Regions from separate parts of the Homo sapiens genome. Here all the other regions are linked to region 3. The links come from fine-mapping of genetic effects on gene expression. A gene starts in region 3. Each other region holds a variant in brackets. All regions are shown on one strand. Distances are between the middles of the regions.

Region 1 (4,069 bases), 110 kb after region 3:
ATTGTCTGTCATTCTGGAGGTTATTAGTGAAGTGATCTTAACCTTGTTCTTAGCTATTATTTTGAAAATCACAGTGGACAAAACATTCTTTAAATTCCTGAGTGAAAATCCATGGCATCGCTTTAAAAAGTTTTTCCGTAAGGGTGCTTAAGCACATAATAGATGATCAGTATGTATTTATTTGGTCAGTGGTTTCCTATGCCTGGCATGAGCTGAGTGAACAAGCATGTTCCGAGTAAGTCCTCATTCTGTGATCATCATGTGGATCAGAATCTAGGGATTTTGAATTGCCATGTCCTACAAGCCTTAGATGAGGTGCCTCTGCCTTCTTCCCTGATGTCATCTCTTACCACCCTTCCTGCCATTCACTCTGTGTATCCACAGAGTAAACAGTATCTGGGTACTCCAACACCTCTGGTCCTTCTGTGCACACCACCTTCCCCCAGTCCTTGGCATGGCTGCCCCCACCTCCACCATTCAGATCTCTGTTCATATGTCACCTTCTCCGAAGCCTCCCTGAACACCCACATTCTCTGTCACATGTCCATGTTTTATCTTTTCCAAGCCTTTCTGAATGCATTGTGTTTATTCATCTGTCTTGCTTGTTGCTTCTCTTACCAGGGGAAAGAAGCTCCATAACAGAGATTTTACCATCTTGTGGATTTTTGTTTTGTTTTGATTTGTGTCTCTGCACTTTATTCTAAGTTATAATAAAAGGATGAAAAAATTTAGGTGAGTTATTTAAAAAGTAGGTAGGATAAGTGGATTGCAATTTTTTTCAAATTATATTACCTCTGCTATGCACTCATTTCATAATGAATTCAAAGCCTTAAATCATCTTAATCTATTGCTGCCACCTTTTCTTTCTTTCTTTTTTTTTTTTTCCGAGATGGAGTCTCACTCTGTCACCCAGGCTGGAGTGCGGTGGCGCAATCTCGGCTCACAGCAACCTCTACCTTCTGGGTTCAAGCAATTCTCCTGCCTCAGCCTCCCGAGTAGCTGGGATTACAGGCATGCGCCACCATGCCTGGCTAACTTTTGTATTTTTAGTAGAGATGGGGTTTCACCATGTTGGCCAGGCTGGTCTCAAACTCCTGGCCTCGTGATCTGCCCACCTCGGCCTCCCAAAGTGCTGGGATTACAGGTGTGAGCCACCGTGCCCGGCCTGATGCCACCTTTTCTGACTCTTGTGTATGGCACAGTTATGTTTCAGGGGAAATTATCTCAGATTAAATATTAGAGTATTTTAAAATAAATTTTGAGCTGGGCGTGGTGGCTCACGCCTGTAATCCCAGCACTTTGGGAGGCCGAGGCGGGTGGATCACGAGGTCAGGAGATCGAGACCATCCTGGCTAACACGGTGAAACCCTGTCTCTACTAAAAATACAAAAAATTAGCCGGGCGTGGTGGCAGGCACCTGTGGTCCCAGCTACTCAGGAGGCTGAGGCAGGAGAATGGCGTGAACCCAGGAGACAGAGCTTGCAGTGAGCTGAGATCGCGCCACTGCACTCCAGCCTGGGCGACAGAGCGAGACTCAGTCTCAAAATAAATAAATGAATAAATAAATAAATAAATAAATAAATAAATTAATTAATTTTGAAATGTTAATGTTTATTTTTCTTCCAATGAAAAAGTGAAATTTCAATTAGGTATTATTTCAGGACTTCTTTTACTGTTGAGAATCTTTTAACAATTTGCTTATGTGTTGAAAACTAGTTTTGCAGCAAGGTTACTTTCCATAATTTTTATTGTGCATATCAAGTATTTCATTCCTTCTGTGGGTTATTTAGTGTTTTTTTTTTTATTATTTTATTTTATTTTATTTTATTTTATTTTATTGTTTTGAGACAGGGCCTCACTCTGTCACCCAGGCTAGAGTGCAGTGGTGCAATCATGGCTCACTACAGCCTTGACCTGCTGGGCTCAAGTGATCCTCCCACCTCAGCCCCCTGAGTAGCTGGGACTACAGGTGCATGCCACCATGCCCTGCTAATTTTTTTTTTTTTTTTTTGTAGAGGTGGGGTCTCACTTTGTTGCCCAGGCTAGTCCCAAACTCCTGAGCTCAAGTGATCCTCCTACCTCAGCCTTCCAAAGCTCTGGGATTACAGGTGTGAACTGCCACGCCTGGCCTATTTTAGATTTTGAGAGCAAATCTTGAGACCA[A/G]ATCTTTAAAAAATAGACCAGTGATGCCCAAAGAGAAAGGTACAGATTAACAATGGCACACCCCTTCTATGAATATACATTATAACAGCCCTTCTGAAGAGGGAAGTGATGGGACAATATGGAGATGGATGTCTTGAAAGCTAGATTGGGAAGAGTGATATGGAGAGGGGATGAGGTGTCAGAGTGCCTCAATTTATTTGGGATTCAGAGAGATCTTGAAGCTCAGAGTACAGCCACAGAATCTCTGGATTAGTCAGGGACTTGGAACAGCCACTCCCTCCTCCATACATTATAAATGTAATAAATAGCCCCTCTTCTTCATCTGTCTGTGCCACAGTTGCCCTTGCGGAAGTTATGTGACTACAACTCATATCTTAATGGGAGAGGAGCAAAGGTCTTATTATTGACAATGAAAATGAAAAAGAAGTCTTTCCCTTTTCCTTTGTTAACATTTAGAACAAGTATGTCCCAAGAATCACTTCCTCATGCTGTGCCTGTTTTTTTTTTCTTTTTTTAAAAAAAAGAGAGACAGAGAACTTATAAAGGAACAGAGAGTTCTATTAGATTTGACTGGTAATGCAAAGTATTCCTGTGGATATGACATTATCTTCTTTTAGCACATGATAATTTTAGGCAGAGGATCTATATAGAAACTTTTGGAGTTATGCTAAGTACAGCTTTTAAAATATTCATGAGGCTCCTGAATTTCTGTACGTATTAAAGAATTATAAAATTATAAAATCCCTAAGAGTCATTTAAGTGCATTATTAATAACAACCTATCATTCAGGACTGCTGTGAAGAAATAAGAGTAATAGGCCCTTTGCAGAGAGCTTAGTGGGCAGGTTTTTAATTATATTAGGATTATGGCAAAGATACTTAGCGTTGAAGACGACTTAGTTTAGTCTTTTGTTCATGAGGTGCATGAACGTCAACAATCTCCTCACAGGAGTTATCCAGCCTCTATTTGAGCACTGTTCTTCTCAAAGTAAAAATATATCTTTTGAGTAGTGCTTAAAACTTGTTTCTGGGGCACACACTCTGATCGGGGATCTATAGCATGAGAAAAGGGGTTCCATGTTGAATTAACTGGAGTTACTGCTAATGCTGAAATGAGCCTAAGGAGAAGGCAGTTGAAAGTTTTGGGGAAGTGAGTCAACAGTCTGTTTTCTATTTTTCTATACATACCCTGTTAAAAAAAAATTTTTTTTTGGTCTTGTCACATGCAGATGCTCCTCGACTTAGAATGGGGCTATATCCCAATAAACTTGTGAAGTCAAAAAATCGTAAGTTGTCCATTATTAAGTTCGGGACCATTTCTGTATTGCTAACTTAGTTATTCAGCAATGGTCTTTGAGTAGCTGGTTATCATTATCATCATCATAGTCATTCCCATACTGTGCAACACAGTAGCATTGTGTTTGCTCCTCCCTCTGTTTGCCTGAAATATCCATGTGACTTCTTTCCCTATCTTTTCAGACACACACACACACACACACACACACACACACACACACACACACAGAGTTGGTTCTCTGTTTCTCTGGAGAACCCTGACTAATACAATAACCAATAAGATAGTATGGAAATAAGACAGTGTGACAATCAAGGCTGGATTGTATGAAGCATTGCATATCCACCTTTGCCCTCCTTTGAATCACTCACTCTGGGGGAAGCTACCTGCCATGTCATAAGGACCCTCAAGCACCCCTGTGTAGAAGTCCACGTGGTGAGGAACTGTGGTGTCCTGCCCACAGCCAGCACCAGCTCACCACCCATATGAGTGAGGCTTCTTGAAGCTGACCTTTCAGCTCCAGTTCAGTGTTTAGATGGCTGCAGCCCTAGCCAGCATCTTCACTGTAACTTCATGGAGACCCCAAGCCAGAATCACCCAGACAAGCAACTGC
Region 2 (4,069 bases), 45 kb after region 3:
GTCTCGAATTCCTGGGCTCAAGCCATCTGCCAACCTTGGCCTCCCAAAGTGCTGGGATTACCAGCATGAGTCACTGTGCCTGGCCAAAAGTATCCTTATTGGAGGAAATTATTTGTTTGGAGAAACCTCTAGAAAATCCTTGCTATTATTCCACATTTATATTATAAGGATATATTAGTGTAATAGTTATAGGAGCAAAATTATTCTCAGATATTCAATATTTACTCCAATTTTTGTCACCAAAAATTGGTGACTCCAATGTCACCTCCTTTTTTATTCTTTCTAAATGTAAAACTCCTTGAGTTTATTTTCAAATTGGAGCATATCTGAGATTAGTTAATCAAATAATGAGCATTTCAACACATGCAAAAAAAGAAAAAAGTATTTTGCAAACCTGATTCTCTATGACTCCAGCGGCGAACTTAATACACTATTAACTTCCACTTCTGAAACTGTGGCTTCCTTTGTTTGGAAACTTATGACATTATGACATTTGCTAAGTCCTCTCATGATTTAGCATCATGATATAAAAAAGAGATGGAAAAGTTTTCTTTCTGTGGCATATCAACGCACTTGAGTGATTAAGGCTGCCTAAATTACATCTAAATTGCAAATATTTATACATCAGTCTTAAATTCTCAAGCCTCTCTTGTCTTTTCAGGTGTCTACTATTATCATGCCAAATGAGTTTCAGCAGGATTATGACATCAGAGACTGTGCTGCTGTCAAGGTCAGTACAATGCTGGAAAATCTGCATATTTAAAACATAAGTCCATCATCATATGCAGTCAAGTAACAGATCCATGGAGTGTCTTTTTATGTGAAGCATGATGTTAGATGCAGTGAGAGATAAGCACACCCATGGCCTGGCCCTCAGCAGCCTAACTTACACTTCATTTGAGAGGATAAAATTCATATTCAAGAAAACCTCTCTCATTACCACGCAGTAATATGCTCCAAATGAGGGGGCTGAGGAAGGCTAATGAAATTCAGAGGAGAAAGTGAGTCCCATGGCCATTTCCCAGGAAGAGGTGGGACTTGAACTGGGACTTTAAGGATGGATAGAGTTTCTACAAATGGGATAGGGTAAGGTTTTTTCATGAGGGGATGGTATGAGAAAGTGGTATAAAATAAGGTGGAAGTGGAAGAGGGCAGTGGAGAACAGAATACAGATCAAGAAGTTTCATTGGTGCTGTCCTTGATAACAGTATTAGGAAATCAGATTGATGCCACTTTAAGGAATTTCTACACTTCTTGATAGGCAACAGGGCATTTTTTAAAGTTTCTGAGTAGGGAGGGTCACATGAACTAAGGAGGGTATGAGGAAGATTCATCTTGAGACAGATGTCAAAAGCAACAGGTAAGATTGGAAGGCATAGAAGACCAGTGAGGCATCTTCCTTTGCAGAATGCATTCATGTATCCATTTCATAAACAGTCCAAGGAGTCAGTGAGGCACTGGGTGATAGAACAATGACAAGGTACAAAGCATAGCCATTGTCTTCACAAAACTAAAGTCTAGTAGGAAATAAAGACAAGTAAACAAGCAATTACAACACCACTGAGTAAAGACTATGACATGCGAAATACAAGTTTTATGCAAGAACAAGAATATTATGAAAGAATAATAAGGATGGTGATGGTGATGGTCCATGGTGGTGGTGATGATGATGATGGAGCAGCTAACACTGATTAACTCCTTTATGAGCCAGCCACTATACTAGGCATGTCACATATGTCACATAGCACATAAGCAATCTTGTGAGGTAGGCACTGTTACTGTATTCATCTCACATGGAAATTTGAGCTGTGAGTAATTTACCCCAGCTTACATGGAGTAAATTTAAACTGAAAGAACTGAAATTTACACCCATGTGTGTCTGGGTCTGGTACTCTTAACCACTATGCTATATGACTAGGCATTTATAGAAATAGAAAGGGTATTGATTTATGAGAAAATTGTATGTTTTAGTTCAGATATTTTGAATCCAAGCTAGCTATAA[G/A]ATGTATGCTATGGTAAGTTGAGATCAAGAGTCTTGAGTTGAAAGGAAAATGTATATTTTTAAAAAAAGGGCCAAGAAGTGGATTTGGAGGAACTGCCAATATATAGAGTGAAAAAAGATGAAGATGGAGGAGACATCAGTTAATATCTTTGATTTGTAGTCCAAGAAAGAGATTCAACAAGGTGGCTGACCAGAAATGTTACAGGAAGGCTGAGGGATATAAGAACTGACAAAACCACAGGAAAGCACTGTTTTCAAAGTAACTCTTCTAGTAATAAACTGTGTAGTACATGTCATTTTTATAGAATTCCCAATGTAACACAGGAAAAGGTGAAAACTTCAGAGAAGCTTATGGAATTTTTAGTAGTGTTGAGAACACTGGTACAATAAACTGTGTTCTAGGGAAATAGAGTTGCCAAGTATGGAGAGATTTGAAAATCTACCAAATAAATAAAGAGATACTAATGCAACCTGCATCAGGAACAAGCCCAGCCAGGGCAGTGTTCTGTAAGGAAAATCTTACCTCACCTGCCACAGAACCCCCAGAAACTTGGTCTTAAGAGAAAATAGTCTAAGAAGTGATGGATGTCTCTCCCAAGTAATGCCTTCCCCTATCCTTTTTATCCTACTTGCTGACTGGAATTTGTAATGAGCCATCCTGGACCATGTGGAGAAGGGCAAAATCCTAGAAATGGCATGGTAACACCAGAGAAGGAGCCTGAGCCACTGAGGCTGGACCTTTATGTCGCTTTCTGATCTAATTTGATCACAGCTTGGTGCTTGGATACCTCTGAAATAAATATTCTAACAAAAATTGTCAGGTGTGGGGGAGAAAATTTGCATTTTGGACATAAACATGACTTTACAACATATTTCCTTTGTTAGCCCCTTTGAGGGCTCTTGCTCAGGGTATTACTGTTTAAATATTCCATTAATTCATGTGTTCATTTATCGAACAAATATCTTAGGTGCTAGAGCTAAAATAGAGATCAAAGTCATAGGGCTTACAGTTTAGTGTTCCATAAGGGATGTATCAACTTCAAAATATTCTGCAATACTTTTCCTCTTATAGGTATTTCATAGGCCATGGCGAAGAGGCTGGCATTTCTATGATGATAGAGAATTTATTTATTTGAGGCCTTTTGCTTGTGATACAAAACTTGAATGGGTGTGCCAAATTCCAAAAGGTAAGTGGTAGTTATTCCTTTTCACAACCTTCTCATGTTAACATTGTGAATGCCTAGCTCAAAGTAGCTAGGGGAGCATTTTGATCTATAATTCTGATGTCTAAAAGCCTATGATGATGATGCAATTAATATGTGGAGCACCCCCTGCCTGACTCCGGCTTCTAATAGAAGGCTAGCTTATTGAAATTTAGTGATATCTTACTCTTTGATCATGGAAGAATTTGCATAGAAGATAAAATGTGAGGCTCATTCAGGGAGATTAGATTTTGGATGAAATATTATTTTAAGCAAAAGGAGAAATGCAGAATCATTTTCGTTTTTATTTTGATGCAAAATGAAAAAATAAAGATAATCTTGGGAAGAATAAGGCAGAAGTCAAGAAATAAAAATTTGGCAGGTCCCTGTAAAATTTAGAAGCAATTTTCAATGAACTATAAAACTGCTAATACTTTATATAAATTCAAATTTGAGAAGCCAGTTAGATTGATAGTATAGCCTTTGATAACAGAAGGGAGAGTGGGGAGAAATGTAGATACCATTTTACTTTACTTTTTCCAGGAAAACATGAAATATTAAGAAAAATGTTAAGACTTTAATTCTCAAATTATTATTATTATTTTTTAAGACAGTCTTGCTCAGTCTTCCAGGCTGGAGTGCAGTAGCACAATCTTGGCTCACTGCAGCCTCTGCCTCCCAGGTTCAAGTGATTCTCCTGCCTCAGCCACTGGCGTAGCTGGGACTACAGGCACCCACTACCGCACCTAGCCAATTTTTGTATTTTCAGTAGAGTCAGGGTTTCACCATGTTGGCCAAGCTGGTCTCGAACTCCTGACCTCAGGTGATTGGCCCGCCTCAGCCTCCCAAAGTGCTAGAATTACAG
Region 3 (4,069 bases):
ACTCAGAACTTCCCACCATCTGTGCCTTAGAATAAATTCAAGGCCCTTCACAAAACAGACACAACTCACCTTTCTGCTGTCATTTCCACTGGGGCCCCCACCACAACCACTTTGATCTCTCTCACAGACACACCCCCCGCAGGGCAGCTACCCTGGACTCTGGACTGTCTTCTGACTCTGCTTGCATTTTCTGGCCTCTGCCCTGTCACTGGTTTTCTCCCACCAGCTGTGCCTGCTCAAATTCCTACCCATTCTTTAAGACCCAGCTAAGATGTTGCCTTCCCTCAACATTTGTCAGAGTTTCCCCATTCATTCTGCCCTGTGTCACTGAGTGTGCCTGTATTAGGGTTCTCTAGAGGGACAGGACTAATAGGATACATGTATATATGAAAGGGAGTTTATTAAGGAGTATTGACTCATATGATCACAAGGTGAAGTCCCACAATAGGCTGTCTGCAAGCTGAGGAACAAAGAAGCCAGTCCGAGTTCCAAAACCTCAGAAGTAGGGAAGCCAACAGTGCAGCCTTCAGTCTGTGGCCGAAGGCCAGAGATCCCCTGACAAACCACTTTTATAGGTCTAAGAGTCCAAAAGCTGAAGAACCTGGAGTCCGATGTTCGAGGGTAGGAAGCATCTAGCACGGGAGAAAGGTGAAGGCCAGGAGACTCAGCCAGTCAAGTCCTTCCAACTTCTGCCTGCTTTTATTCTAGCCATGCTGGCAGCTGATGAGATGGTGCCCACCCAGACTGAGGGCTGGTCCGCCTCTCCCAGTCCACTGTTAATCTCCTTGGCAACACCCTCACAGACACACCCAGGAACAATACTTTGCATTCGTTCATATCAATCGAGCTGACAATATTATCCATCACAGTGCCTCAGTCTCCCCAGTATTCAGGGGAGGGCAGAGATGTTGTCTTTTTGTCCTTCTGTTCCATGGCGTGCCCAGATCCTGTGATGGCAGGTGCTCACTATATCTATGGAACTGAAAGGCCAGACCCTGGGGAGAGGACAGAGCAGGTTTGGGAGCCAACTGTGAAACCTTGGCAGTGGGAGTCAGGAAGAGCAACCTAGGTCTTTGCATCCTCATGCAACAAGGATGGAGGCCACCTCAAGTACACATTATGTGCTCAGCAAAGACGAGATTTAAAAGTATAAAACATTCACATTTGAGCAACTTAGGTCATTAAGAATTTGGCCTCTTTATAATGATAGCAGTGTCCACAGGAAGAGAGTGAGTGGGACATGAAATTTCTGGTTCTGCATGCAGACTTCTACATTTCTACCAGCTAATTATTATTATCATTAAATTATTAAGCAAAGAGCTTACTCGCAAAGGTCAACTTTTTATAAAGCATAAGTCATCCTTGGAAGTGTCGTTTGGTCATTCTAGTAATTCTTGCTTTTAATTCTTTAACAACTATGGGTAGAACTGCAGTGTACCATTATTCCACCTTTGTTTGCACTGTCAAAATACCCAAGACGTTGCCAAGGACGACTGAATTCTTAGGCTTGGCCGCAGCCACCCACAGGGCAGGTGCTCACTTCCTCCTCCGGGGTAGAAGAGATCATGGGTCCCTTTCCAGTCCAGGCTGGAATGGAGAAGTCGTCCCTGACCACAGTGCGCCAGGCAGAGGCCAAGGTTCTAAACTGATAGAACCCACCCACCAGGGCGGTGCCAAGTCCCAGTAAGGGCCGCATCTCCCCAGCTTGGCTGATGAAGAGGCGGGGACCGAACCCTCCAGTGCAGGAGCCTGTCTGGTGCCTGGCTCTCCCACCGATCCGCACGTACCTCTTCCTCGCGGGTCCTACCCCACGCAGGTATCTAGCGCCCAGCCCTGTTCATTTCCCACACCTGGCCCGCTCCGCCCCGGGGCCGAGGAGACGCACGTCTGATTGGCCGAGGGCGGCGGGGGCGGGGCCGGGGCGCCCCCAGAGGCCTAGACAGAGGTGCGGGCGGGGCAGGCCGCGCTCAGCAGGCGGGGCGGGAGCCGCGTGCGCCCGAGGACCCGGCCGGAAGGCTTGCGCCAGCTCAGGATGAGGACAGGCTGGGCGACCCCTCGCCGCCCGGCGGGGCTCCTCATGCTGCTCTTCTGGTTCTTCGATCTCGCGGAGCCCTCTGGCCGCGCAGGTAACCGCGGGCACGCCAGCCCCGCAGTCCGCTGGGTGCCTCGACGCCACAGCTCTGCTGCCTTCCAGCCTGGGGCAGGGCTGCGCCCCTGGGGCAGGTCACGGCTGCTTTGCTGTTGGGGCGGGGGGGCTCTGGAGCCGGAAGAGTGAGTCGCAGGGGAGGTCTGGCAGAGGAAGCGCCCCAGTGCCCTCGGGGGCCCGGAGGAGGGCGCGGTGGATGTGGGAGGACAGGGCCCTTCTGGTGCAGAGGGGACGCGGTGCACCGTAGAGTAGGCGCACGGAGGCTTTTTTGGCCGGGTGCGCTGCTCCATCGTCGCCTCTCTTATATAATGTTGCTGGAGTATGGGGTTCCCCATCTGCCCTCTTGCGTCCCGTCCCTCCCGTTCTCGCTTTTCCTTCGGCCCTTGGTCACCTTGGCCACAGGGCCAAGAGGAGCCTCCACCCACAGCGCCAAGGATTCCCCACGATTCCCGGATTTCACTGCGCCTACGGTGCGCATCAGGAAGGAAGTCAGGTTAAATAAACCATCTCCTCCGAAAGTGACCAAGACCAAGAGTCAGCTATGATGCCCTCACCCACCGCCTAGAGCAACAAACCTTTCTTCTCATTGGTTTATCAGCTCCAAATGACCCCGCTCCCCCAAGGCTGACAGCCTCACGGTGAAGGGCAGGTCGCCTGCTTGGGGACCTGCTGCCTCTCACTGCGGAAGCAGGACCAGAAACAGACAGCCTTCATTGATGTTCAGGGTAGTGCCAGCCCCACCACACCACACCCCTTGGCAGCAACCGGTTGCTTTTACTTTCTCTTTTTGCCTGGGCGAGGGGTGTGCAGAGAACTTTGTTTCTTGGTTGGACTGCATCATGGGCACTCAATGGGCCACCCTCCACCGGCCACTTCTGTTATCGTGCCTGTATGAGGAAGGAAAAGATTGTCCAGGCAGTTTGAAAAACATTAAATTGTTGGTGGCTCTTATTTTCTTTGCAGCTAAGCTAAGTTACCATCTGGTTTAGACTTCCTTCGGAGAGCGATGGGAAGAGATTTCTCAGAGTGTGAATGGCATCATCCTATCTACAGCAAGGACCTGGAAATGAACCCTGCTCTGAGTCACACTTCTCTATTCTCCTTTGACCCTGTGTGCTAGGAACTACCAAAAGAATCCTTTAAAATAAGATCCTTTATTGCCTTGATAATTTATTCTGCCTGCCCCACAATCCAAGGTGGAAAAGTTCACTGCAGCAACTAACTACAGTGAAAATGCACTAACTTTTCAATCACTAACCTCTTGGTTCCCATCGACATCTGCTTCAGTCCTGTTTTTATCTCCTTCACAAATTTCAGGATTTCCCTAATTCTTGCAATCTCTGCAATCACTGCCCTTTATCACTGACCCAAAGCAAAAAGCACCAGGTTTAACTCTGTTCCCCCTGTGCTAGGTCCCCACAGGTTTTGTTATCCTGTATCCTTCCTTACTCCTAGCAGCTACTCTGATCGATTTTCTCTCACCCTCAGAGCAGACTTGTGGCCTTGTTTGGGGAAGCACTGGAATTTTGAACCCCCAGCCATTTGGGTCAATTGTTTGGCAAGAGTGTCCGCTTCATGATGCTGGTGATGGCATGCACCTCGTCACATGTGCACGGCTAGGCTTGTGCAGGTGGCCTCTATTACCCAAACACTGAAGGAGCCCCTCTGTGTCCTTGGAGAGATGCCAGGTGCTTAGTTTACATTTTTGCCTGCTTGGAGAGCTAACAGCTTGAAGTAAACCAATCCATCAGGGACTCCTGAGGTTTTCACCAGCCAACACCACCCAATCGTGCGTGAAGACTTTCTGACTCCCTGGACATTGCCATGGACTCAACTGTCACTTCAGGACCTGTTTTTGAACTAACAAACCTAGACTTCTGATTCTCTCTTGCTGCACCTACCTGTACATTCCGAACACATGGT
Region 4 (4,069 bases), 100 kb after region 3:
GAGATTATGCTTCCTTCTTTCCATGACTAAATTCTTCTAAAAGTTTTCTAATTTGCACTAATGTGTTATGAGAAATTAGTCACTTAAAATGTCCCAGTGTCAGTATTTACTCTGCTCCAAAGTAGAACTCTTAAATACTTTTTCAGTTGTTTAGATCTTAGGCATGTGCTGGTATCCACAGTTAATTCCCTGCTAAATGCCATGTTTATCACCCTAATTAATAGAATGGAGGGGACTCCAAAGCTGGAACTGAAGTCCAAATTGTTTGTACAGTAATATGTTTAATGTTCATTTTCTCTGTATGAATGTGATTGGTAACTAGGATATGTATATTTTAATAGAATTTTTAACAAAACTTCTTAGAAAATTAAAATAGGCATATTACTAGGTGACATGTCTACTTTTTAATTTTTAAGAGCATCCGGCCAAATGCAAAATTAGTACCTCAAAGTAAAAATTGAACTGTAAACTCTATCAGCATTGTTTCAAAATAGTCATTTTTAGCACTGGGGAAAAATAAACAATAAGACATGCTTACTTTTTAATTTTTATTTTTTTGAGACTGAGTCTCTCTCTGTTGCCCAGGCTGGAGTACAATGGCGTGATCTCGGCTCACTGCAAATCTCCGCCTCCCAGGTTCAAGCGATTCTCCTGCCTCAGCCTCCTGAGTAGCTGGGATTACAGGCAACTGCCACCATGCCCGGCTAATTTTTGTATTTTTAGTAGAGATGGGGTTTCACCATGTTGGCCAGGCTGGTCTCGAACTCGTGACCGCAGGTGATCCTCCCGCCTCGGCCTCCCAAAGTGCTGGGATTACAGGCATGAGCCACCGCGCCTGGCCTCTGCTTACTTTTTATATAGCAAAATGATTCCTCTTGGCAAGATGTTTCTTATATTATTCCAAAGTTATTTCATACCATTATTATGTAAATATGAAGAGTTTTTTTCTGTTTATAATTGTTTATAAAACAATGACTTTTAAAGATTTAGTGCTTAACATTTTCCCAAGTGTGGGAACATTATTTTTAGATTGAGTAGGTACCTTGTAGCAGTGTGCTTTGCATTTTCTGATGTATTACATGACTGTTTCTTTTGTAAAGAGAATCAACTAGGTATTTAAGACTGATAATTTTACAATTTATATGCTTCACATAGCATGTCAACTTTTGACTAAGAATTTTGTTTTACTTTTTTAACATGTGTTAAACAGAGAAAGGGTCCATGAAGGAAAGTGTATGAGTTGCATTTGTAAAAATGAGACTTTTTCAGTGGAACTCTAAACCTTGTGATGACTACTAACAAATGTAAAATTATGAGTGATTAAGAAAACATTGCTTTGTGGTTATCACTTTAAGTTTTGACACCTAGATTATAGTCTTAGTAATAGCATCCACTGGAAAAGGTGAAAATGTTTTATTCGGCATTTAACTTACATTTGTACTTTATTTTTGTATAAAATCCATAGATTTATTTTACATTTAGAGTATTTACACTATGATAAAGTTGTAAATAATTTTCTAAGACAGTTTTTATATAGTCTACAGTTGTCCTGATTTCTTATTGAATTTGTTAGACTAGTTCTCTTGTCCTGTGATCTGTGTACAATTTTAGTCACTAAGACTTTCCTCCAAGAACTAAGCCAACTTGATGTGAAAAGCACAGCTGTATATAATGGTGATGTCATAATAAAGTTGTTTTATCTTTTAAGTAAAAGTAAAAGTGCTGGAGTTGATCCTTCTTGAAAAAAAAAATCTCTAGATTGGGTTTTTTATGTTAGGCATATAGTACAAGAAATAAATTGACCACCTATTGTAAAGCGAGGCATTTGCTAAGAGATTTTGTGTGCATTTTTTAGAGAATAAATAGGCGGGTAGTGGCTCACACCCGTAATCCCTCTTGACACTTTGGGAGGCCAAGGCAGGGGGATCATTTGAGCCCAGGAATTCAAGTTCAGCATGGGCAACAAAGCAAGACCCCATTTCTAAAAAAAAATAAAATAATTAGCCAGGTGTGGTGGCACCCATGTGTAGTGCCAGCTACTCAAGAAGCCAAGGCAGGAGGATCCCATGAGCCCAGGAGTTTGAGGCTACAGTGAGCTATGAACGTGCCACTGAACTCCAGTCTGGGTGACAGAGCAAGACCCTGTTTTGAAAAACAAGTCGATATTGATCCAATTGCTGAATACTGGAAAGGCAAAGTCAGATAAAACTGGATTCTCGGAATTAGGAAACCAATGACCATCTTAGCCAATGCAAATGTAGCAGAGTAGTGAAGCCAGAATCCAGATGGAAGTGAGTTTAAAAGTGAAAGGGAAGGCCAGGTGTGGCATCTCGTGCCTGTAATCCCAGCACTTTGGGAATCCGAGGTGGGTGGATCACCTGAGGTCAGGAGTTTGAGACCAGCCTGGCCAAATGGTGAAACCCCATCTCTACTAAAAATACAAAAAAAAAAAAAAAAAAAAA[AAAAAAT/T]TAGCCCGGTGTGGTGGTGCATGCTTGTAATCCCAGCTACTTGGGAAGCTGAGGCGGGAGACTCTCTTGAACCCAGGAGGCAGAGGCTGCAGTGAGCTGAGATCGTACCATTGCATTCCAGCCTGGGTGACAGAGCAAGACTCTGTCTCAAAAAAAAAAAAAAAAAAAAAAAAAAAATTGAAAGGGAAATTAGGAGATGAGGAACATGAGATTTCGAGAAGTATGATGGAGACAGAAAGGAAAGGGGCTGGGCCATAGCCAGAGGGGAAAGAAGGGTTGAAAAAGGGTTTTTTTCTAAAGGGGAGAGAAAGAGGTTCACAAGTTTAGAAGCTGAGATGAAAAAAACAAAAACAAAAACAAAAATAATGGACAGAGAGAAGTTGATGATGCAGTGGGGAGAGGGAATCATTAATGGAAGATCTTGGAGAAGATAAAATGAGAGGGGCAGTCCTAAGCAGAAAGAGGAACTGGTTTGGGTGGGCTGGAGAAGCATGCCTTCCTCTCTGAGACCACAAGAGAAGAACTGCAGATAAGCATTTGAAGATGTTTGTCTATATGTAATGGCACCTGTTTTCTTGTGTACTAGAAGGCAAGGTCTGCTGAGAAAGATGGGTAGCAGATGGGGTCTTTTAAAAAGTTTTTTAATTTTTTAGAGACAGGGTCTGTCTCAGTTGCCCAGGCTGGAATGCAGTGGTGCAACTCTAGCTCACTGCAGTCTCGACCTCCAACATTAACTTTTTTTTTTCCCTAGAGACAGGTGATTTCAATGTTACCTAGGCTGCTCTCAAACTCCTGGGCTCAAGTGATCCTCCCACTTCAGCCTCCCAAGTGTTGGGATTACAGGTGTGAGCCACCATACCCAGCCTGGGATCTTAGCTTGAAAAGAGTAATAAATTTGAAAGACTCAATGAGAGAAATAGGAGAGGACAGTGACTAAGGTAAAATCAAATACAAGGATTGCAGAAGAGGCATAGAAGGCCCAGATGAAATTAAAAGCCATATTGTTTATAGTGACAGCCATCGGGAGAACTGATTGATTTCCTCCACCTGTCCTCAGTTAACTTCAGTAAAGTTGAGGAAAAAGAGAGCACGGGCCAGGCGAGGTGGCTCATGCCTGTAATCCCAGCACTTTGGGAGGCCAAGGCGGGCAGATCACTTGAGGTCAGGAGTTCAAGACCAGCCTGGCCAACATGGTGAAACCCCACCTCTACTAAAAATAGAAAAAACTTAGCCAGGTGTGGTGATACACGCCTGTAATCCTAGCTACTCGGGAGGCTGAGGCAGGAGAATTGCTTGAACCTATAAAGTGGAGGTTGAGGTGAGCTGAGATAGCGCGACTGCACTCCAGCCTGGGGGACAGAGTGAGACTCCGTCTAAAAAAAAAAAAAAGCATGAAGAAGAAAGCGGAGACCACAGATTCCGAGTTGGCCAGGTGAGCACACCAGGGGAACAAGGGGACAGAGGATGTGGTATTTCGGCTGGGTGGAGAAGGGAGAAATAAAAGGCTGAGAAAAATGCAGGCAAGGGACTGAAGTCTGGCATGAGCCAAAAGAGGATGTAAGTTGGAGACAGAGTGAAGGAAAATTAAGGGTATGAGGTGT
Region 5 (4,069 bases), 28 kb after region 3:
TGTCTTTACTTCCCCCACTAATATCAATATTCAAAAATAATTCATCCAGTGAATATTATACTCTTATGATGAGCCAGCCACCCATATGAGAAGTAACCCATACTTTTTGTCTGACACAGGCCCACAGTCTTGTGGAGGTTATCTGTGAAATTGCATCCCACCCTCATCACATGTATGATTTCAATAGCCATGTCCTCAATTTCCACAAGTTCTAAGACGTTATCAATGTAGCAGAAACATGCTTGCCAGACGGGACACCATCAAGTCTGGAAAAGAGTTTGACAATATTTTTCCTCTGACTTAGGGCTGGAAGAGACATGGAGAAACCTGTTACAAGATTTATGAGGATGAGGTCCCTTTTGGAACAAACTGCAATCTGACTATCACTAGCAGGTGTGACCATCAGTAAACTTGTACTCATAAACTTTCAACTCTGAATTCTTTTGCCAAACAGTCTTCCTAAGTAAAAGGTGCATCTTCAAATAGAGTCAATCATTGTGAAACACTTGCCAATTTGATTCTCCTTTTGTAGATTTGAGCAAGAATACCTAAATGATTTGATGAAAAAGTATGATAAATCTCTAAGAAAATACTTCTGGACTGGCCTGAGAGATGTAGATTCTTGTGGAGAGTATAACTGGGCAACTGTTGGTGGAAGAAGGCGGGCTGTAACCTTTTCCAACTGGAATTTTCTTGAGCCAGGTGAGTGTCTTAATCTTTGAAGTAGTAGTATACTGTGACTAGTGAAAGGCAGCACTCCTCCCAAAGATGTTCCTCACTTACTTTTGAAATGTGAGGGACATGATGATCTTCAGGATTGGAGTCTATCTATGGAACCATAAATAGAAGCAGTGGCTATGTCTTCCCTATTATGTCCTTGGGAATAATCCAATGAAAGAAATTCAAAAACTTAGTTCTCCCAAACCACCATCTAATGGCTCAGAGCTAGAAGCACCAGTGTGAGTTTTTAAAATCTTTTCCATGTAAATCTCAAATAGAATCTAGAAGCTCCCGTGTGAGGCTCTTTACATTTTCATCTCTCTGCTTCTTAACCTATTTTCAAAACTGAATGTGTTTTCTTCCATTATTCTCAATGGGTAAGAATTATGGAGGCTATCTTGTATTATTTATTTTGTTTTTGTTTTTGTTTTTGTTTTGAGATGGGGTCTCACTCTGTTGCCCAGGCTGGAATGCAGTGGTGTGATCTCGGCTCACTGCAACCTCTGCCTCCCAGGTTCAAGTGATTCTTCTGCCTCAGCCTCCCAAGTAGCTGGGATTACAGGTGCATGCCAACATGCCCAGCTACTTTTTGTATTTCTGTAGAGATGGGGTTTTAACATGTTGGCCAGGCTGGTCTCGATCTCCTGACCCCAAGTAATCCATCTGCCTCAGCCTCCCAAAGTGCTGGGATTACAGGTGTGAGCCACTGTGCCTGGCTTCTTATTTATTTTGAAAGTTATTTCCTCTTTCTCCAACCAGCCTAAAGCATTGACCATAATTTGCCATAGAATCAGAACACTTAAGCCGGAAAGGACCTCAGAAATACTTTTAGAGTTAAGAAAACAGAGACTTTAAAAGGTGATTTACTTGACAAAGATCATCTGGTTATTGAATTAATGAAATCCAGAGTTCCTGATTTTTAAGCCAGTGGCTTTGAATAAGACAGCAGTATAAAGCATTCTACTTTTCACCCTGTGAATTATTTATATTTTATTGTGTTGGTCTAATGTGATCATGAAGACTATTTTTTATAACACAGAGATTGGAAAATATGAGCTTACAATTGAACATGTTATTTGAAATAGAAAATGCCCACAAAAGTTAGGACACATGGTCATCACCATCAACATGAGTGATGTTGCTAGTAACAAAGTCATCCTTTTATGTCTGAAAAAGATAGAGTATACAGATGTTGATCCTGGTTAAATCTCAGATTAAGAACACTCTAATGGATAAAGCACATAGATTTCTTTTTTTCTTTTTCTTTTTTCTTTTTTTTTTTTTTTTTTT[TTTTTTG/G]AGATGGAGTTTCGCTCCTCTTGCCCAGGCTGGAGTGCAATGGCTCGATCTCGGCTCACTGTAACCTCTGCCTCCCGTGTACAAACAATTCTCCTGCCTCAGCCTCCCAAGTAGCTGGGATTACAGGCACCTGCCACCATGCCCAGCTAATTTTTTTTGTATTTTTAGTAGAGACGGAGTTTCACCATTTTGGCCAGGCTGGTCTCGAACTCCTGACCTCAGGTGATCTACCCACCTCAGCCTCCGAAAGTGCTGGGATTACAGGCGTGAGCCACCGTGCCTGGCCAGATTTGTTTTATAGACACTAAGAGTAAAGGTGACGTTCTTGATAACTAAGTCTTGGTGGTTGGAGAGGTGCTTGGGAAGTAGCTACCATGACTACTTCCTCCATTCTATGACCAGAAAGGCTATGTGAAGCTCTCTTTACCATTATTGCACCCATCCTCAGCCAACTTGGTCTATCATGGGCACACCGTGGATAGAAGGACTGAACAGGGAAAAATAGCACACCCATTCAGGGTAGCAAGGCAATTATTTTTCCCAGTTTCTTATTCCTCTTGCTGTTTGTGTATATGAGACTATGTGGCTTCTCTGTTTGGTGGGATAGAAGTTGTCCTATTACTTTTCAGTATATGTAACTCTTCTTGTCTTTTACCTGCTTCAGGCAGTGTGATGTAATGGAAAATGGAACATGATGTTTTGTCAGACAAATCTGGTTTCAACCCCAACTCTACCATTCACTAACTCTGACTGTGGGCAAGTTACTTAGTCTTCATTTACAAAATGGAACTGATAATTCAAACTACCTTTTAATACTGTTATGAATACATAAAATTATGACTGTCATAAAATTAACGGTAAACAAATGTATGTTACCACATACCTCCTTCTACCTTTATTGTACCAGCTTTTCCTTTGGATCAGAATCTGGGAGAGTTGTGTTTTGAGGTTAACTAAGTTTCTTAAAAACTGCTCAAAGTTTTTAAGCTAATTTGAACCACTATCCTAAGCAGCAGTAGTATTTAGGGTACAGCTCTAGAAACAGACCACCTGGGCACAAATCCTGGGGCAACCACTTACTAATTCTATGACCTTGAACAAGTCACTTCATTCTCACTGTACCTCAAATTATGACAATAGAATCCCCCCATAGGTTTGTTATGAGGATTAATCTTTTTCAAAAAGTACTTTACAAATAATAAACACCTGTCATTATTATTCTGAACAACATATTTCTTTCCTCTCTTTGTTCCATTTTTTTTTTATTCTCTCTCCCCAACTTGGCTGAAGTAAAGAGTAGAAACACTAGAAAATGTTTGAACTTTAACGTTTTAATTTTTAATTGAGCTTTCCACTTCAATCCCAGCTTCCCCGGGCGGCTGCGTGGCTATGTCTACTGGAAAGTCTGTTGGAAAGTGGGAGGTGAAGGACTGCAGAAGCTTCAAAGCACTTTCAATTTGCAAGAAAATGAGTGGACCCCTTGGGCCTGAAGAAGCATCCCCTAAGCCTGATGACCCCTGTCCTGAAGGCTGGCAGAGTTTCCCCGCAAGTCTTTCTTGTTATAAGGTAAAGTGACATTCTCATTCTATCCTTCAATGAAGTTATTTTTCCACTACCCTTGTTCATGTCCTTGTACAAATTATGCTCTTCTCCATAGTACTATGTAACCTAACTAAAGTGCTCTGGAGCACAGAGTCCTTGGCAGGGCATCGCTGAACCTCTGGTGTGAGGTGCCTCAGCCCCACACCCTGCACGTGTCCTACCTGAAAGGGCAGGCCCAAAGCCAGAAGTGGCTCCACCCCAAGGTCTTTTTTTCCCAGTAAGTTGGTGTACTATATGCCATACTGCCACTATGCCTATGATCCTCATATTCCTCTAATTCTTGTTGTCAAATTAACAGCTCCAGCACTCCTAATAATGTAAAAAAAGTGTATATATATTTACACTTTTACAAACATATATATATTTGTGTGTATATATACAAATATATATATTTATATATACAATATATATATTTATAAACATATTTACAATATATATATTATAAATATAT
Region 6 (4,069 bases), 35 kb after region 3:
AGGCAAGGAAGGGCCTTGGGAATTCAGAGGAGGGAGGGAGTGTTTCTGGGAGTATAATCAGGAAAAATGTCATAAAGAAGGCTGATTCTTGGAAGGTAGGTATTATTTCAAAAGGCAAGATAGGAGAAGGAGAAGGAGCCAGAAAAAAAACAGAACATAAGCAAAGGAACTAAGACCAGAATATACAGATATGGTCAAGGAGAAATGAGTCATACAAATTAGCTAGAAAATGGAATTTGGATATGAAATTGGAATGTCCTTGTTTGCAAGGGAAGGAGTTTGATCTTAAGTAATTAAACACAACCAAACAAAAAACAAAAACAAGGTGCGTGTGTGTGTATTTATATCTACACACACTCACATATACCTGCATATATACATATATACACAGAGAGGAAGGGGTTGGCCAGGCTGGTCTCGAACTTCTGACCTCAGGTGATCTGCCCACCTCAGCCTCCCAAAGTACTGGGATTACAGGCATTAGCCACCACACCCAGCCCATTATCAGTTTTGATTAAGTGTGAGTCTGCAAATTTGTTCAATAATAATAAAGTCCAATTCTGCACTTTTGAAAGAGACTTAAAACAAAGCTTGCCAATTAGTACTTATCCAGCTCTAAGACTATAATGTTCTTTTCCTGGGAGGAAGGGGCCACAAAATACTACAAAATTGTGAAATTCTAATAAAAATCCTTAAAAATTTAAAAATTTTTTAAATTTTTTAATTTTAAAAATTAAAGCAACTAGCAACATTTTCATTGTGCAACAGATAAAAGTTAGTGCTGAGTAGCTGGTGGCCTCCTGAAATGGGGCCTGACTCTCCAATTTGCCAGGTCTCTAATTTATTACTTCTTGACCCCACTTCACTTGCTTATGTTATGTGCTTGTCTTATATTTACTCAAATAGCAATTGAGTTAATAATCACAAGTCATGTGATCATCTTAATAGGTACTGAAAATGCATTGGGTAAAATCCACTATTCATTCCTGGTTTAATACATAAATATACACTTATATTTAGTAAATATAACTAATATGTAAATTCTTATTTGAATAGAAGAATAGCTCAAATTAATAGCCATATCACACTTAATGATGAAGCATTGTTAAGTGCATTTCCCTGAAAGTCAGAAAAAGGTAAGTATCCCTATATCATCACTATTGTTAATCTTGGTTTGAAATTCAACTCCTGCACATTAAGATAAAAACAATACTATAATGTGTAAATGTTTATATATATTAAGCAGAGGAAAAGACAGATTATCAAAGAGTAAAAAATATACTATTTACATTTAAAACTAGACTGCAAAAAGGGTAATGGCTATTATATCTCTAGGAAGTAAGATTTTGAGTGATTTTTAAAGTCTTTTCTATGGGCTGGGTGTGGTGGCTTATGCCTGTAATCCCAGCACTTTGGGGGCCTGAGGTGAGAGGATTGCTTGAAACCAGGAGTTCGAGACCAGCCTGGGTAGCATAGGGAGACCCTATCTCTATTTAAAAAAAAAAAAAAAAGAATTAGCTGGGCATGGTGGCACACACCTGTAGTCCTGGTTACTCAGGAGGCTGAGTCAGGAGGATCACTTGAGCCCAGGAGTTCAAGGATACAGTGAGACAAGATAGTGCCACTGCACTCCAGCTTGGGCAACAGAGTGAGATGCTGTCTGTAAAAAATAAATGAATAGAATGTTTTCTTTGAAAATTTCTATATTTTCCAGATTTGCTTTTTGTTTTGTTTTTTGAGACAGTCTTGTTTTGTCACTCAGGCTGAGGTACAGTGGCATGATTACAGCTCACTGCAGCCTCAACCTCCCAGACTCAGGTAATCCCCCCACTTCAGCCTCCCAAGTAGCTGGGACTACAATCACATGCCACCACACCCAGCTAATGTTTGTATTTTTTTGTAGAAACGGGTTTTTCCATGTTGCCCAGGCTAATCTCAGATTCCTGGCT[C/T]AAGCGATTCACCTTCCTTGGCCTCCCAAGGTGCTGGGATCACAGATGTGAGCCACAGTGCCTGGCCCAGATTTGCTCTAATATAGCTTCTGCTGTGTTTTTCTCATTAGAGAATGTAGTTTCACTACAGTGTACTGGGAATCTAATGCAAAATATGATACCTGTGTTCCATAAATATTTATTTATTAAGCATCTATCGTAGAATCTCAGGTATTCTAGACATCATTGTCCAGTGTTAGAAATTAATATACAAAATTTCACTGCAGACTGACCCAAGGCAATTTGTATATACTAAATACTAACTCTTGGGTTCTTTGTGAGGTGAGTGTTAGCTATTCCCTCAACCTTGAGAATAGATTATAACAAATGCAAAATTCAGACCAAAATTTTCCACACATACAGACATTTGCTATGCAAACATTCATTGAAGCAGACACAAAACATTTTATACAACGTGTTTTGTAAGCTTGACAACATTCCAGCAATCTGTCCTTTTTGGTGTTTTAACTATCACCTTGCACAGATTTACTTGAAGCAGATGTGGCAGTGTTCTGTGGCAGCATTCTGTTCCCATTGTAGTGAGTATCAGGCCATCACAATCACCTGACCCAATGACTGGATGTGGGGTTGTTTCGAATCAAGCCCTACTAAGATACAGGCTGCGGCCTCGCAAGATTCTAATACACTCTTGAGAAGTGTGAGAGTTTCTCTAAATATTTTAGCTAATCCCTGCATCTCAAATAACTTATATTTCACCAGTGAGAGCCCAATCCTACCATCATGCTGATGAACAAGCTTCCGATTTCACTGACATTAACCCAGTTCTCACATTCATTCTGCTCATGACCAAAGCCTCCAGTGTGACTTTGGTGATCATGGAAGTCCTCATGGTGGCCACCTCTGGACCATGGCCTTTCTTTTTCTTTTTTTTTTTTATTATTATACTTTAAGTTCTAGGGTACATGTGCACAACATGCTGGTTTGTTACGTATGTATACATGTGCCATGTTGGTTTGCTGCACCCATTAGCTCGTCATTTACATTAGGTATTTCTCCTAATGCTATCCCTCCCCCATCACTCTGCCCCACAACAGGTCCCGGTGTGTGATGTTCCCCGCCCTGTGTCCAAGTGTTCTCATTGTTCAATTCCCACCTGTGAGTGAGAACATGCGGTGTTTGGTTTTCTGTCCTTGCGATAGTTTGCTCAGAATGATGGTTTCCAGCTTCATCCGTGTCCCTACAAAGGACATGAACTCATCCTTTTTTATGGCTGCATAGTATTCCATGGTGTATATGTGTGGGGCATGGCCTTTCAAATACACCACCAATACTTCCTGACATGTAAGTTTCAAGCAGGGCAACTTAATGGCCCTTAGATTTCAAGCTTGACACACACAATATCATATTATCCAGATAAAGTATTTTTAAGTAAAATGCTGACATAAGCTCTAGATTCCAAGCAAGAGGTTAGTAACTCTAACTGGAACGAGGAGCCATGGATAAGTACTAATGAATGAGGTTGTAGATATTTGTGAGAAACAATAAGTAGAAAACATTGGAATATCATATGTGATAGAAATGACCATTAAGAGCATCCATATACAGAACGAATTACACTAGGAAACAAAACATGAAAGGAAATTTTTATGATTTGTTTCTTTGTTTTGAATCACACTTGTTGAGCACTCCCTTCTTTAAAAAATTAATACAAGTTCATTATATAAAATTTGGAAAATATAAAAATGAGTAATGAAGCAAACAATCACCTCAAATCCTAGCTCCTGATTATAAACATAGTAAACCCTTAGTGTAAACCCTTTCTGTTTACTTACATCTCTACACATTTAGCTTTTACAAAACCTATTTTCCATAGAATGTACTATGTTTAATTTTTTTCTAATCATAAAAGTAATGCACATTGAATTTAGAAAACAGAACAGCACAGAGAAAAAACAAATCTCCTTAATCCCTTCACTTATAGGAACTGTATTTTATTTGTACTCTGATCCTAGCAGTTAACACAATGCCATGGTAAGCAGACTGCTTTGTTTGCTTAATAACTTCTCCATAATAAAGAAATTGTTTGCCTGTGCTGTGCTTAGAGAACATATTCTAAAACC
Region 7 (4,069 bases), 99 kb before region 3:
GTAGAGACAGACTGATATTGAACTCCTGGGCTCAAGCAATCCTCCCACCTTGGCCTCCCAAAGTGCTGGGATTATAGACATGAGCCAAATTGCCTGGCCCAATGGTCATTTTTAAAAGTATAATCCGTATGAGTCATTTGACATGTTAAAGGTATAAATTCATCGCTCAGGACCACCACTGCCTTTATTAGCAGCAAGTCCAGCTTCTCCCTCCTAATGTCTTTCTCCCCACCTGCACCCCCCACTGTCTAAGAATCTCAAGTGCTTACTCAGTTCAGAATGGTCAGTTAAACTTCAAAGTACGGTGGATGGGCACATATGGGTACATCCAATCAGTTCACAGTCACTGCCTGGGGTACCTTAGCCAGGATTCCAGCGTTAACAGCTCTACTAGTTCATCCTCAGGTGTTCAGCTCTGAATCCCAAGGCATGAAACTGTGCCAGGTTGGTCAGTACCAGAGAAGCTGATGTCTTCCGCCACAGCCTACACTAGAACCAGTCTCTGTGGAACAAGCTTCAGGCCCTTGTATTAAGCTGAGGTTGACAGCCTAGACCCAACAGCCCTTCTACTTCAGGGTGAGTTCTTGCTTGCCTGTATCTCCATCAGGGCTGTGCCAGAGACAACAGCAAAGAGTTACTAAGTTTGTATCTAGAGGAAATGGCTTAGGGGCCCCAGGCTCTTCCCTCCCTGAAGGCCCGGAGCTCTTTATACAAATTGGTCTATTCCATCCTCAGAGCTCTATATACCAAGGTAAGGAAAGTGTTTGCTAAGCCACAGGGGGAGGTATATCTCCCCTTTAGTGTGGCCTCACACTAAAATATAAAAGTGGCCACACAAGCCTTGTTTCTCATAATTACAAAAGTCCAGTCCAAGGTGGTTTGCTAATCCCAACTCTAGACAGTGGTTGGCAAAGCTCCACCGATTTTTAAAATTCAACGATGAAATCATGAATATATTCTTACTATAGATAATGTGACCATATACCTCATTTGCCCAGAACAGTTCTAATTTATGTCTGGTGTCCCAGAGCAATTAACAGCAGGTATTTTTACTCCAAATTTTTCTGGCTTGGATGGTAAATTATGTAGATGCTCTAATTATAGAGAAGTGTGCTAAGTAAAATGTGGAAGTACTCCGTTACATCTTTCTCTTCACCTTCCCAACATCAATACATTTCCCTTTTCAGAAACAACCACTGTTAACTGTTTGGTATGATCCTGCTGGTGTTTGTCTATGCATTGCATTTAAATACATTTATGCATATGTACTTTTTAAATGGATATAAGGATTGCATGTTTCTGTTATTTGATTTTTTTCACTTAGCAATCTGTCTTAGAGAACTTTCCACATCAATATTTATTAGTCGACATTTGAAACAGCTACATAGAATTTCATAGTATGTAGGACTCATAATTTGCTTTGCCATGACCCTGTTGAAGGACATTGGGTGAAATTCATTTTCATTTCTGCTACAAAAGTGTTACAACAAATATCTCTATGTTGATGTCGCTGTGCATAACTATGAGCATGTTGGCCTAAAAGTGTACATCTTACTGAGGCATTATCAGTTTACAAGTTCATCTAACAAAATTTGAGAGTGGCAGCTTTCCCACATTTTTGTCAATACTGAATGTAACAACCTTTTACATTTTTGCCAATTTGATAGAATAAAAAAAGTTTTACTATTCTTTTAATGTCTACCTTTTCATTTAGTTATTTGAGCAATTTTTCATATTTGTTCTATACATTTTGTTTTGTTTTTCAACTACATGGTCACATAATTTGATCACTTTCTATTTTTATTTTGGACACTTTCTATTTTCTCATTACTTAGTGGAAATTTCATTATATTCTAAATATAAACTCTACATGTTTGCTATTTGCCTTTTAATTTTTCTATGGTATGTTTTGTCACACATAAATGTTAAACTTTTTGTAGTAAAAAAGTTTATATTTTTCATTTTAGCTTTGTAGATTTTTATATTTTCTAAAGGCTTTGCTCAACCAAAGATTATAAAAATATAACCTTATATTTTTATAGTTTGGCTTTTTAAATGTATAATTTTGATTGATCTGAGATTTTAAAAGTATGTTCTAGGAGATAGCTCATTTTAATTTTTCTAAATAGTAACCAATTTCAACACTATATAGTAAGTTCACCCTTTCGTCTACTGATTCGAAATACCATAATAAACATAACCTACATTCTCATTTTCTGTTTCCCTGCCAATATGGCACTAACATAATTCAAGCAGT[G/T]TGGTATTGAAAAAGAAATAGAAAAAATAGAATCAATGTAGCTGAAAAGAGAGCAGTAATACAAGAATATAATTTCTATTATTCTTAGTTTTCTTGGAGCTCTTTTTTAAAATTATTAACAGATTTTAAATTTTACTCAACACTCTGAATCTACTAAGACAATCCTAAGGTTTTCTCCTTTACTCTCTTAATATGACAAATTGCTTTACAGTAGTAAACCAGCTTTGTACTGTTGGGTAAACTTAACTTAGTGATATGTATTTTAATACATCTCTGGGTTTAGTTTGCTAGTACAAAGCTTCACCTACTATAATGTACATAAGAATATCCTGTAGATTTTGATGAAGTTAAAATTCTGATTCAGTAGATCTGGGGTAAAGTCCAAGAATCCGCATTTTTTAAAAAGCTCCTAGGTGCTGCCTATGTTGCAGGTACACAAACTAACCTTTGAGTGGTAGGTTTATGATTTTAGCAACCTTTTTTCATAGGGAAAACTAGTCCACATTTCTTCATTTGTATACAGCTTTGGTTTCATGATTATGCTAAGTTTCATAGAATGAATTGGAGAGTGTTCACTTTTATTCTCTACAGAACTATATATACAGTAAACATTTATTAGAATTTGCCTTATGTTTTATATAGGAAATTTAAAAACCACTAATTCAATTTCTGTAATGCTTATAAGACTACTGAGGCTTCCTACTTCCTTCCAAGTGCTGCTTGAGTTGTATTTCACAAGATTTAGTAGAGTTTTATAATTTTTCAATTTAGAATACATTCCAATTTCCAATATGAATATGATTTCAACCCATAAATTATTTAGAAGATTTTTTTTAATTTCCCAAAATGCAGGTGTTTCTAGTTCCTTTTGTTGTCAATACCTTATTTAATTGCACTGTGGTCAAGAAATACGGTTTGTTTGGTGCCTGTCCTTTCAAATACAAAGTTGGTATTATGGCCTTGCATGTGTTCTTTTTATATATATATATCCCATATGTACTTGAAAAGATTGTATATTCTGCTTTTGCTACCTGAAATGCTTCATCTATGTCAACAGATTATGTTAAATGTGTTGTTCAGATCATCTATAGCCTCAATATTTTTTGCCCACGTGATCAATCAATTATTGAGAGTGTTTGATACCTCCCACTATGATGGTAGATGTGTAAACTTCTCCCTGTAGTTCTGTCGAATTTTTGTATTACATACTTTTTAGGCTGTTTTATTAGGAACATACAAGTTTAGAATTGTGATATCCCACCTGTGGTGTCAAAATCGGTATAGTAGTATCCCAAGTGATCCTCTTGTTCTTTCAAAATTATTTTCTCCTTAGAGTTAATTTGTCCATGAATGTAGCTACAGTAACTTTTTAAAAATTAGTATTGGCCTAGTACATTTTTTAAATTTTTTTCTAACTTTGAATGTTTTTGTGTTCTTAGAGTTAATGTATCACTTATAAACAGCATATAACTAAATTTTTAAAACTCTATTCACACATTCTTTGTCCTTAACTGTATAGTTTGGTTTACTTATATTTTTTGTGATTATGTATAGAATTGGATTTATTTCTTCCATTTTATTATGTCCTTTCCATTTATCCTGCATTTTTTAGTCATGTTTTCTCTTCTTTCTTGCCATCTTTTGAATGTATCTTTTTCTTCTTTTCTCATTTCATTCTTTCCCCTTTACTTATCTGAAAATTGTATTATCTAAATCTATTTTTTTATTTGTTACACTAGCTATTCAACATGCATTCTTAACAAAATCAACAATATCAAAGTTATTCATCTTTAAAAGGATTATAATTTGCTG

The links. PIP is the estimated chance that this variant, and not a neighbour inherited with it, causes the effect.
Region 1: its variant is fine-mapped to the expression of LY75 in whole blood (TOPMed, PIP 0.98).
Region 2: its variant is fine-mapped to the expression of LY75 in whole blood (TOPMed, PIP above 0.99).
Region 4: its variant is fine-mapped to the expression of LY75 in whole blood (INTERVAL, PIP above 0.99).
Region 5: its variant is fine-mapped to the expression of LY75 in whole blood (TwinsUK, PIP 0.94).
Region 6: its variant is fine-mapped to the expression of LY75 in whole blood (TOPMed, PIP above 0.99).
Region 7: its variant is fine-mapped to the expression of LY75 in thyroid (GTEx, PIP above 0.99).

Annotation. Positions count from the first base shown.
Region 1 is chr2:159,792,040-159,796,108 of GRCh38, reverse strand. All of the region lies in intron 33 of LY75-CD302 (LY75-CD302 readthrough), which reads left to right. All of the region lies in intron 1 of CD302 (CD302 molecule), which reads left to right. It overlaps LOC124906083 (a long non-coding RNA gene), which reads right to left and starts at 919. Exons shown (of 2, transcript XR_007087273.1): 1 at 1-919. The variant A/G (reference allele first, on the strand shown) is at 2,164.
Region 2 is chr2:159,857,482-159,861,550 of GRCh38, reverse strand. LY75-CD302 (LY75-CD302 readthrough) reads left to right here. Exons shown (of 38, transcript NM_001198760.1): 15 at 662-730; 16 at 3,075-3,189. LY75 (lymphocyte antigen 75) reads left to right here. Exons shown (of 35, transcript NM_002349.4): 15 at 662-730; 16 at 3,075-3,189. Among named protein-coding and RNA genes, the nearest start is that of LY75, 45 kb to the left of the region's middle. The variant G/A (reference allele first, on the strand shown) is at 2,003.
Region 3 is chr2:159,902,646-159,906,714 of GRCh38, reverse strand. LY75 (lymphocyte antigen 75) reads left to right here and starts at 1,959. Exons shown (of 35, transcript NM_002349.4): 1 at 1,959-2,126. The coding sequence starts at 2,033. LY75-CD302 (LY75-CD302 readthrough) reads left to right here and starts at 1,959. Exons shown (of 38, transcript NM_001198760.1): 1 at 1,959-2,126. The coding sequence starts at 2,033. RefSeq lists silencers at 1,757-1,998, 1,768-2,227 and enhancers at 2,408-2,487, 2,628-2,677, 2,898-2,947, 2,998-3,047.
Region 4 is chr2:159,801,005-159,805,073 of GRCh38, reverse strand. All of the region lies in intron 33 of LY75-CD302 (LY75-CD302 readthrough), which reads left to right. It overlaps LY75 (lymphocyte antigen 75), which reads left to right. Exons shown (of 35, transcript NM_002349.4): 35 at 1-1,719. The coding sequence ends at 30. Among named protein-coding and RNA genes, the nearest start is that of CD302, 4.8 kb to the right of the region's middle. The variant AAAAAAT/T (reference allele first, on the strand shown) is at 2,463.
Region 5 is chr2:159,874,957-159,879,025 of GRCh38, reverse strand. LY75-CD302 (LY75-CD302 readthrough) reads left to right here. Exons shown (of 38, transcript NM_001198760.1): 10 at 305-393; 11 at 533-702; 12 at 3,383-3,582. LY75 (lymphocyte antigen 75) reads left to right here. Exons shown (of 35, transcript NM_002349.4): 10 at 305-393; 11 at 533-702; 12 at 3,383-3,582. Among named protein-coding and RNA genes, the nearest start is that of LY75, 28 kb to the left of the region's middle. The variant TTTTTTG/G (reference allele first, on the strand shown) is at 2,011.
Region 6 is chr2:159,868,117-159,872,185 of GRCh38, reverse strand. The region is part of intron 13 of LY75-CD302 (LY75-CD302 readthrough); the gene reads left to right. All of the region lies in intron 13 of LY75 (lymphocyte antigen 75), which reads left to right. Among named protein-coding and RNA genes, the nearest start is that of LY75, 35 kb to the left of the region's middle. The variant C/T (reference allele first, on the strand shown) is at 1,950.
Region 7 is chr2:160,001,203-160,005,271 of GRCh38, reverse strand. The region is part of intron 11 of PLA2R1 (phospholipase A2 receptor 1); the gene reads left to right. Among named protein-coding and RNA genes, the nearest start is that of PLA2R1, 59 kb to the left of the region's middle. The variant G/T (reference allele first, on the strand shown) is at 2,258.